Linked DNA regions of Homo sapiens. The protein of the gene in region 1 purifies or fractionates together with the protein of each later gene. This does not show direct contact. Each region holds a gene or a part of one and is shown in the gene's direction. Other genes may lie near its edges.

Evidence for each region.
Region 2: the proteins of TRIM71 (region 1) and DICER1 purify together in Homo sapiens (affinity purification with western blotting, with the first as the bait; one study listed by BioGRID). This does not show direct contact.
Region 3: the proteins of TRIM71 (region 1) and L1TD1 purify together in Homo sapiens (co-immunoprecipitation; one large-scale study listed by IntAct). This does not show direct contact.

What each region holds. Positions count from the first base shown.
Region 1 is NC_000003.12:32,887,429-32,891,160, forward strand, and holds part of TRIM71 (E3 ubiquitin-protein ligase TRIM71), read left to right. Parts: intron 1-2,931; coding exon 2,932-3,732.
Region 2 is NC_000014.9:95,095,030-95,098,529, reverse strand, and holds part of DICER1 (endoribonuclease Dicer), read left to right. Parts: intron 1-1,816; coding exon 1,817-2,705; coding exon of another isoform or gene 2,706-2,758; exon of another isoform or gene 2,759-3,184; intron 3,185-3,500. UniProt on the Homo sapiens protein: Double-stranded RNA (dsRNA) endoribonuclease playing a central role in short dsRNA-mediated post-transcriptional gene silencing.
Region 3 is NC_000001.11:62,197,822-62,201,553, forward strand, and holds part of L1TD1 (LINE-1 type transposase domain-containing protein 1), read left to right. Parts: intron 1-3,732.

The sequences.
Region 1 (3,732 bases):
AGAACCTTGCTCCAAATCCTGTGGGGTCCCTCTCTCTTTGACTAATTACTGACTTTTTTTTTTTTTTTTTTTTTCTGTTCCTTCCCAGCAAATCCCTCTTACTTTGCCTGTCTCTGTCTGGGCATCTCTTTGTTACAAGTTTTGTTTTCCTGCATCTCTGGTTACTTTAAGATATATAAGTGCAAGGATTAAGATAACCCTGTTGTAAATATCCAGATGCCTCTCTTCATTCTTGGGCCTTATGTATTTCCAGTGGACTTGGCTACCTCATGGGGTTAGCTGCATATATATAGTTCATGGGTAAGAACCAAAGGTGGAGGTTTGGCCTAATGGGCAAATATTCTTTAATCTGTCCCCACGTGGGCCTCTCCATACACATGTATCCTGGTTCACTGAACAGATGAAAAAGCAGGAATGAGTCGAAATCATATAATCACCCCTCCCACCCTAAAGGGAAAGTCAGGTTGAAATCCAGCTCTTTCAACAGTGGACGCTTATTCTGAAATAGCCTTCTATGGCTTTCAGATCTGTAGAACAACTCAAGTCATGGTCCTCTGTGAAAACTGTTTGGATAAGTTCATTCGCTTCACAGGGGGAAATTGCTTAGAATTAGAGAACTTTTAAAGAATAGAGAAACTAATGTTTCATTGGTAAAACAAAATTCCATATTTCTAAATAGCATGGTTTGAGAACCTCAAGCAGGAATTATTTTGGCAGGTTAGAATCCATGTCCATATATATTATAGCATTTTAGATTTAAAGGGCTCTTTTGGAAATAATACAGACATGCCAAAAGCGTGCTATGTTAAAATTTGGGGTACAGGGCTTCTCAGGTTCCCAGTTGGGTTTTTAAAACCATTCTTAAAATACAGAAGTAAAGAGAAACTGGCCCAAGCACAGTGACTCACGCCTGTAATGCCAACACTTTGGGAGGCTGAGGTGGGAAGATTGCTTGAGTCCAGGATTTTGAGGCCACCCGTGGCAACATTAAGACCCCATCTCTACCAAAAAAAAAAAAAAAAAAAAAAAAAAAAAAAAAAAAAAAGGTGCCCTGTGGTGGTGGTCTCCTTTAATACACATTTCCCAAGCTAATCCTTTTGCGGTTTGTTGTTGTTGTTGTTGTTGTTTTGAGACGGAGTTTCGCTCTTATTGCCCAGGCTGGACTGCAGTGGCACGATCTCGGCTCACTGCAACCTCCGTCTCCTGGGTTCAAGCGATTCTCCTGCCTCAGCCTCCCAAGTAGCTGGGATTACAGCCACCTGCCACCACGCTCGGCTAGTTTTGTATTTTTAGTACAGAGAAGGTCTCACTATGTTGGCCAGACTGGTTTTGAACTCCTGACCTCAGGTGGTCCACCCATCTTGGCCTCCCAAAGCATGAGCCACTGTGCTGGGCCCCAAACTAATTCTTTAAGAATATGAATCTGTCATGTCACTCCCCTACTGAAAGCTGTGGTTGTGAAATGCTGAGCCTGTGCCCACAGCAGGACCTTTGCTGTTTCCTTTGCTGAGATAGCTCTCCCTATGGCCTTTTGCCTAGTCTCAACCTGTAGGTCTGAACTTGTGAAAGGCACTGTCCCTCAGTGCTCTTTGTCTGTATCAGGGCCCCTAGACACTGTCTTTCACATCCTTTTTCTACTTTTTAACACCTATCACTATCTGACATGATCCTTATTTCTTCGTTTGCTTTTGAATACTGCTTTTCTAAACTACAACTCTGTGTGAGCAAGGACCATATTTTATATTTTCTGTGGGTTACTGCAGTACCTCCAATGCCTGGCAAAGTGTAGGTGCTCAGTACACTCCTTTGTCAAATGGCTGTTTTTGGTTTTGGTGGTGGGATCTTGCTATTTTTTTAAGGTGGGATCTTGCTGTATTACCCAGGCTGGAGTGCAGTGGTTATTCACAGACACAGTCATGGCACACTACAGACTCAGCCTCCTAGGCTCAAGTGATTCTTCCACCTCAGCTTCCCGAGTAGCTGGGATTACAGGTGCACAGCACTGTGCCCAGCTCTAGATGGCTGTTTTTAACTTTTATTTTTTTTAATTTATAGCTTACAGAAAAGTTGCAGTAATAGTAACTCCATATATTCCTTCTCCAGATTTACTGATTATGTACGTTTTGTCCCAATTATTATTATTATTATTATTATTATTATTATTATTATTATTATTTTGAGACGGAGTCTCGCCCTGTTCCCTAGGTTGGAGTGCAATGGTGTGATCTCTACTCACTGCAACCTCCGCCTCTCGGGTTCAAGCGATTCTCCCCACATCAGCTTCCCAAATAGCTGGGATTACAGGCACCTGTTACCACACTTGGTTAATTTTTGTTATTTTTAGTAGAGACAGGGTTTTGCCATGTTGGCCAGACTGGTCTCAAACTCCTGACCTCAGGTGATCTGCCTGCTTCATCCTCCCAAAGTGCTGGGATTAGAGGCATGAGGCGTGCGTGTATGTGTGTGTGTGTGTATGTATGTATGTATGTATGTGTATATATGTTTGTGATCTGAGAGTGAGTTGGCATATTGGAAACACAATGCCTTTACCCCTAATCACATTACAATTACAGAAATCAGGAAATTTGATTTTGATACAGTACTAGCATCTACTCCTCAGTCCATAATCAAGGTTCAACAATTGTCCCAACAGTGCTTTTCATAGCTAGCCACTCCCTCCAGTCCAGAGTCACTAATTACATATAGTTGTCCTGTTTCTAGTAACTATCCTCTGTAACCCAGAACAGTTCTTCAGGTTTTTTGGTCCATTTTGATTTTGCTGCTTTTGAAGAAAGACAGATGTCTTTTGTAGACCATCCCACAATATGTGTTTGTCTGATGCTTCCTTGTGATTAGTTGTGGCTTATGTGGTATTTTCTGTGCTTGGCTCTAAGCCTCTGTGTCTTTCTCCACTCTTGCTTTTCCCTCCAGGTAGAAAAGATCCGCCAGGTGAAAGCCAAGTCTCTGTACCTGCAGGTGGAGAAGCTGCGGCAAAACCTCAACAAGCTTGAGAGCACCATCAGTGCCGTGCAGCAGGTCCTGGAGGAGGGTAGAGCGCTAGACATCCTACTGGCCCGAGACCGGATGCTGGCCCAGGTGCAGGAGCTGAAGACCGTGCGGAGCCTCCTGCAGCCCCAGGAAGACGACCGAGTCATGTTCACACCCCCCGATCAGGCACTGTACCTTGCCATCAAGTCTTTTGGCTTTGTTAGCAGCGGGGCCTTTGCCCCACTCACCAAGGCCACAGGCGATGGCCTCAAGCGTGCCCTCCAGGGTAAGGTGGCCTCCTTCACAGTCATTGGTTATGACCACGATGGTGAGCCCCGCCTCTCAGGAGGCGACCTGATGTCGGCTGTGGTCCTGGGCCCTGATGGCAACCTGTTTGGTGCAGAGGTGAGTGATCAGCAGAATGGGACATACGTGGTGAGTTACCGACCCCAGCTGGAGGGTGAGCACCTGGTATCTGTGACACTGTGCAACCAGCACATTGAGAACAGCCCTTTCAAGGTGGTGGTCAAGTCAGGCCGCAGCTACGTGGGCATTGGGCTCCCGGGCCTGAGCTTCGGCAGTGAGGGTGACAGCGATGGCAAGCTCTGCCGCCCTTGGGGTGTGAGTGTAGACAAGGAGGGCTACATCATTGTCGCCGACCGCAGCAACAACCGCATCCAGGTGTTCAAGCCCTGCGGCGCCTTCCACCACAAATTCGGCACCCTGGGCTCCCGGCCTGGGCAG
Region 2 (3,500 bases), on another chromosome or scaffold:
ATTTTTCTTAATGTTTCTGATGGCACTTTGGTTATTGGAATTCATTAGAAATACTGTTCAGATTTTTATTTAGTAAGTTACTTTTATTGAAATATAGGCCCTTGCATTATATTGAAAAGATACACTGTGGTTTTGGCTGGTTGCATTGCCATTCTCCCTACCTTGCTCTGGCCCTTCAGCAAATGGGCTTAAGTGGAAACCTTTGCATGCTAAAACGCCTCTTAATAGACGAGAGTATCAAAGTTGACTTGAATGATATAGAAAAGGATTTCATGTGGCTGTTTTTTCTTAAAAGGCTTGAAGTGCTCTTGAAAAACATTTTATGAGACAGAACCCCACTCTTTTGTAGATGAAGCATCTGAAACCCAGAGGCACTAAAAGGCTTTGCCCAGGATCACACAGTTTGTGATAAAAGTCAGCCCTTTGTGATTTTTGTGCTCTGCCACTTTTGGCTTATGGTGGCACCTTTCTAAAGATACAGAAGGTTTTTTTCAATAAAAAAAAAATATTGTCTGATTTTTTAAAAATCGCAGTTTGGCCCTCTTTTTCTTAAGGACCAATCAAAAACATCTTCATGTTGCCTTGGAAAGTCTAAGATTGTTAGCAGGAAATGTTCCTTGAGGTCTGCCGCTACAGTTGCTTTTGGTGTTCCTTATTCTTGAAAAGGTGTTTCTTTCTTAATTAAAAAAATGAAAAGATAAATAGTTAGAGATATGGCTTGGCTTACTGCTATTTCTTTTCAGACAAATGTAGTGTTTATATCTTGAGTCTAGTTTAAAATATTTGTAGTATTTAAAAAATGCTTGAAGGTTGCAACTTTTTTTTGTCAGAACACTGGAAAGTTGTTACAATCAACATTGATGCACACCCTTCGTCTTCCCCCTTCACAAGTTTTTTGGTTTTTTAAAAACTTGCATAACAGAAATTTGGCATCTTTCTAGGATTGCAAAGAAGTTACATCATTACTGAAATCTAGCCCATTATTAAGGTTGTCACTCACAAATAAGCTTTTGCCAAAGAAATTGGAATTAGCAAAGATCTTTTGACAGAAATTGGATTGTTGTGTTTCATGTTAGTCTAAATTTTCTTCCATTTTTGTCAGTTATGCTATAATCTGTTCCCCTGATTACCGTAGTTCAGAGTGGAGGGAAAAAACGTAACTTCTCAAATTCATAGCTTAGTGCAGTGATCACTTTTATTTTTTAAGGAAAGCAGTGTAGTTTTTTTGTGGCAAGTATACTTTGAAGTGGAAATAGGGACAAAAAGCTTTATTATAAAATCCTATTGTACATTTTAAAAAATGATTTTATCTGTTTTTATATTATATTCTTAATTGCAAAGGTAATGCTTTTCTACATCTGGAATTTCGTTTTATTAGTTTGAAAATCTTTTTGAAAATCAAATTACCACATTTTCAAATTTTGTCAGCAAAATTGAAGATCTGTGTGATCAGCATATGAGTGCTTTCATTGTGTGTCCTACCAGAGTTAGACGACTTAGTTGAAGTTTTGCATTGTGGACATTAATTTTAACTTTATATCCATGTTCAAAGTCCTTAACTTAAAGCTTCATACTGGATAAAGGTCATTTTATAACTTAGAAAACGAACATTCAAAGAACATGTTTTACTTTGTTTATATGATTAAATAACTTATTTTATGTTAATTGAAAACAAATGGCCATGATTTTAAAGTTGCCTTTTAGTATTTGTGGTTGTCATTTGAAATTATCCATAACCCTTGCTTTTATTGAGTTTCAAACCCTTTTAAAAACAGCAGCTATGTTTCCCCTCCTTCCCCATTCCCCCTCGTTTCAGACAAAAGACTGCATGCTGGCGAATGGCAAACTGGATGAGGATTACGAGGAGGAGGATGAGGAGGAGGAGAGCCTGATGTGGAGGGCTCCGAAGGAAGAGGCTGACTATGAAGATGATTTCCTGGAGTATGATCAGGAACATATCAGATTTATAGATAATATGTTAATGGGGTCAGGAGCTTTTGTAAAGAAAATCTCTCTTTCTCCTTTTTCAACCACTGATTCTGCATATGAATGGAAAATGCCCAAAAAATCCTCCTTAGGTAGTATGCCATTTTCATCAGATTTTGAGGATTTTGACTACAGCTCTTGGGATGCAATGTGCTATCTGGATCCTAGCAAAGCTGTTGAAGAAGATGACTTTGTGGTGGGGTTCTGGAATCCATCAGAAGAAAACTGTGGTGTTGACACGGGAAAGCAGTCCATTTCTTACGACTTGCACACTGAGCAGTGTATTGCTGACAAAAGCATAGCGGACTGTGTGGAAGCCCTGCTGGGCTGCTATTTAACCAGCTGTGGGGAGAGGGCTGCTCAGCTTTTCCTCTGTTCACTGGGGCTGAAGGTGCTCCCGGTAATTAAAAGGACTGATCGGGAAAAGGCCCTGTGCCCTACTCGGGAGAATTTCAACAGCCAACAAAAGAACCTTTCAGTGAGCTGTGCTGCTGCTTCTGTGGCCAGTTCACGCTCTTCTGTATTGAAAGACTCGGAATATGGTTGTTTGAAGATTCCACCAAGATGTATGTTTGATCATCCAGATGCAGATAAAACACTGAATCACCTTATATCGGGGTTTGAAAATTTTGAAAAGAAAATCAACTACAGATTCAAGAATAAGGCTTACCTTCTCCAGGCTTTTACACATGCCTCCTACCACTACAATACTATCACTGGTAAGGAGCCCACGACCAGACTTCATTTCTGGGAAAATGAGACTTTGTGTTGATCTCATCGTGTTGGCCTTGTAAAAGTGATCTATGCATGTACAGTGTTCATGCTTAATATTCAAGGGATGGGGCGGGGAACAAAAGGAATAGAAAGAATTCTTTTCCTTGTTATTTGGGGAGCACGTATTGCTTTATAACTTTGGTTGTTGGGAGTATGGCTATCATATACCCTCATCAGTGTCATTTTATATCTGCCTAATTAGAGAAATTTTAACCTTAGTATTTTGATGTGTTTTCCCCATTTTATCCTCCGCAAATATCTTTCTCTTGCCCATTCAGTGCTGCTTTTGGTTTTTGATTTAGTTGTATATTCTGGATGTATTTCCACAGCCTTTTATTGTTCTTCCTGGACAAAAAGACCCCTCCTTTAGGGTCTTTTTAAAGATGGATAGATTAAAAGATTAAAAGCAATGATTTCACAAGAAGGTTGCGTGGCCCTTGCTGTGACTCTGCTGTCATCTTCTACTTCTCACTGTGCTCTGTATTTGCCCCTCTTTTAATAGACTGTCAACCCATTAGATTAGAAGGGAGAACAAGCCCCTCACACCCAAATCAGCTTCAGGCTGTGAAACACAGCTGAAGTTTACATTTCAATTTCTGTATCAGAAAAATAAGTGCCTGAATTCAGAACACCAAAGCAAAGTATAAAGTTTGTAGTTTATATAATAAAAGCAGCGTAGGTTAAGGTGATCAGCAAAATGTAAAAACCAAAAAGTGAAAAACTATCTGACTCTGGACTGG
Region 3 (3,732 bases), on another chromosome or scaffold:
GCTGAGATTGTGCCACCTGCACTTCAGCCTGGGCGACAGTGAGACTCTGTCTCAAAAACAGAAGAAAACAAAACAAAACAAAACAAAACCCTGTAAATTACTTGAATGCCCACTGCTGAGGGAATTACTTATTGAACCAAAATATGTTCAAAATATGGCATGTCACACATAGAAGAGTGAGGTGTGCATATATAACTGGAAGATTACAAATGGCCTATTGAAAAAAAGAAAATAGTGTTAAAAGTATAAAGCTATTAAAAAAAAGTAAATGTCCCCATACCCAAGGAGAGAGACGTACTAACTAGAAGTCGAAGTTGGCATTCTCCTTTATTGTCCTCCCATGCACCCATAAAAACCAGGCACTTTATCTTGGTATGGTAGCATGCCTGTAATACCAGCTCCTCAGGAGACTGAGGTGAGAGGATCACTTGGTCCCTGGAGTTTGTGACCAGCGAACAGTGATCACACCACTGCTTGCCACGCTGGGCGAGAGTGAGATCTCAAAAAAAAAAGCAAAAACACAAAAGTCACCTGTACGTTGTGAGAGATACCACACCAAACTTTGGGTGGCCTCAGAGGTCAGATAATAGAGACTGAGGTGAGGGACTAGTAATTGTTCTTATTTAAAAAAAAAAAAAAGAAGAAAAGAGAAGTCCATAATCCCCCCAGCAAATTCAGAAAAACACACACACCGACCCCCCGCCGCCGCCCCACCCCGCCGATAAGAACAGGCTGCCAGTGTTGAAAAGGTAATACACCACAAAGGAAATGCAAGCAGATAAACATATGAAAAGATGGCAGTCACAAGCCAAGGCAATGCAAATCAACAAGCTTTTTTCCATCCCTAAAATTAAAGGAAGTTTATCCGCCCTCCCAACCCCCAGTCCCTTGAGGGAAGTGCTAAACATTTCTTGCCCTTTCCAACCGGTGCTCTCCTGTATTGTATACTTTTAAAGTAACCTCCTTAAAATACAAAGCAGAACTTGGGAGTACACTGGTGAAAATCTCCGGTCTCCCTAATCACTTTTTTTTTTTTGGCAGGGTCTTGCTCTGTCACCCAGGCTGGAATGCAGTGATGCAATCATAGCTTAGAGTAACCTTGAACTCCTGGGCTCAAATAATCTGACCGCCTCAGCCTCCCAAGTAGCTGGGACTGCAGGCAGAAGCCAGGACGTCTGGTCCCTGAGCCCTTTTGATGGCTACCATCCAACCCTGAGACAAAATTTGCTAAACTTGTACCAGCCTCTGCTTTCTTCTTGATCAGGGATTTTGAACCCAGAGTGCCTGGGTAGTGTCTGGCTAGAATTCAGAGTATCTGATATCTTGGATGTGAAAAAGGTCACATATATTTATTGTCATTAAACGCTAATCATAATTTAGCATTTAGCATTTGAGGCTGGGAGCAGTGGCTCATGTTTGTAATCTCAGCACTTTGGGAGGCTGAGGCAGGTGGATCACCTGAGGTCAGGAGTTTGAAACCAGCCTGGCCAACATGGTGAAACCCCGTCTCTACTAAAAATACAAAAATTAGCCGGGCATGGTGGCGTGTGCCTGTTGTCCCAGCAACTCAGGAGGCTGAGGCGGGAGAATCGCTTGAACCCAGGAGGCAGAGTTTGCAGTGAGCCAAGATTGTGCCACTGCACTCCAGCCTAATCCACAGAGTGAGACTCTTGTATCAAAAAAAAAAAAAAATCAGCATTTGATACAGTTAACAACAAATAATAAATCCCACCGTGCCCGGCTGTAATTTTCAGTTTTAAGCCAGGCATGGTGGTGCGTGCTTGTATTCCCAGCTACTCAGGAGGCTGAGACAGGAGTTTGAGTGTAGCCTCGGCAACATCGCAAGACCCTGTCTCTTTTAAAAAAAATAACTTAATTTCGAGTTTCTCATTGCACCTGTCATGTACTATAGAGTGACTCTTGGAAAACACATTACCCAAAAAAGGTAGTGTTAGATAATAGGGCACTGGCCAGATTAATTACTGAAAAGGTCAAAAAATCCCCAGGGTCACTATGAATGTGGCCAGGGTGGATATTTGCCCCTGCACTGGCTGTAATCAGGGTGTTCAAACACTGGAATGTGTTTTGATTTGCATTCTCCTGACTAATATAATCTTTTTGTGTTTACTGTACATATGGTTTTTGTATATGTGTTTACAAAATTGGATTGTACTCTATATTTTCTGCACCATTTTTTCCCTCTAGTATACCAAAGACATCCTTAACCAATGGGTATGATTCTAATATACTCTTATTATGTATGGTATAATTTTTATATGTACGTTGAACATATTGTATGCACCATATAGAGTATATATATCATAACATGGTGTATATATATATAACAATGTATATTATGGTTATGATTATTTGAGACGGAGTTTCACTCTTGTTGCCCAGGTTGGAGTGCAATGGCGTGGTCTCAGCTCACTGCAACCTCCGCCTCCCGCATTCAAGCAATTGTCTTGCCTCAACCTCCCGAGTAGCTGGTGGAGCCCGCCACCACGCCTGGCTAATTTTTGTATTTTTAGTAGAGACGGGGTTTCACCATGTTGGCCAGGCTGGTCTTGAACACCTGACCTCAGATGATCCGCCTGCCTTGGCCTTCCAAAGTGCAGGAATTACAGGCGTGAGCCACTGTGCCTGGCCATAATGTATATTATAATGTATATTTTATAAATTAATGTATTTATGTACTTATATATAGTTATATCTATTCTATATAATCCCATCGTGTGCATAAATCATCATTTGTTCCACCCTTCTCTTATTAAAGGACATTGTTTTCTAGTATTTTTTGGCCAGAAAAAACTCAGTACTAAAATTTCTATTCATGTATTCCTAAGTGTACAGGTGGTTTCATTCCTAATGGTAGATTCTCAAGGGGAGAGTATATGTATTATTTCTGACTTTAATAATAGGCTTTTCGTTTCCTGAAATGTTTAATAACTATTCCTACTTCTGATGGGTAAAAGTGGTCTCATTGTTTTTTTATTATGTACTCAACTCCTGGGATTGGGCCACCTTTCACATGTTTACTATTGATTTACATTGTCTTTCCTAAAAATATTTTATTTAGTTTTAGTTTATTTGTTTTATTTTATTTTTATTTTTACTTTTTTTTTGAGATGGAGTCTTGCTCGCTCTGTTGCCCAGGCTGTAGTGCAGTGGCGTTAACCCTAATTCAACCTCTGTCTACCGAGGTCAAGTGATTCTCCTGTCTCAGCCTCTGGAATAGCTGGGATTACAGGTGCCCGCCATCATGCCCAGCTAATTTTTGTATTTTTAGTAGAGACAGGGTTTCACCATGTTGGCCAGGCTGGTCTGGAACTGCTGACCTCAGGTGATCTGCCCTCCTCAACTTCCCAAAGTGCTGGGATTACAGGCATAAGCCACTGCAACCGGCCTCAAGTACATTTATTGTAGCGTTTATTGGACACAATAAAGGCACAATTGTTATCAGAAAAATTTGTCCTTATGTGCCTGTAGAAGTTTACCCTTGTTTTCAGCTTTCTGTGTCATCTTGGCAAGTCAAGTAGAAGTCTATTTCACCAGGGAGAGCTCAGTGGTTTTCCTTAAGGATTTTCAGTTTAAAAAAAAATATTAGAAGCATTATCAGGCTAGACCCGGTGCCACTGCACTCCAACCTCGGCGAGTGAGACCCTGCTTAAAAAAAAAAAAAAAAAAAAATTAGCATATTCAAACATCAATAAAAGTAAGAACTCATCACCT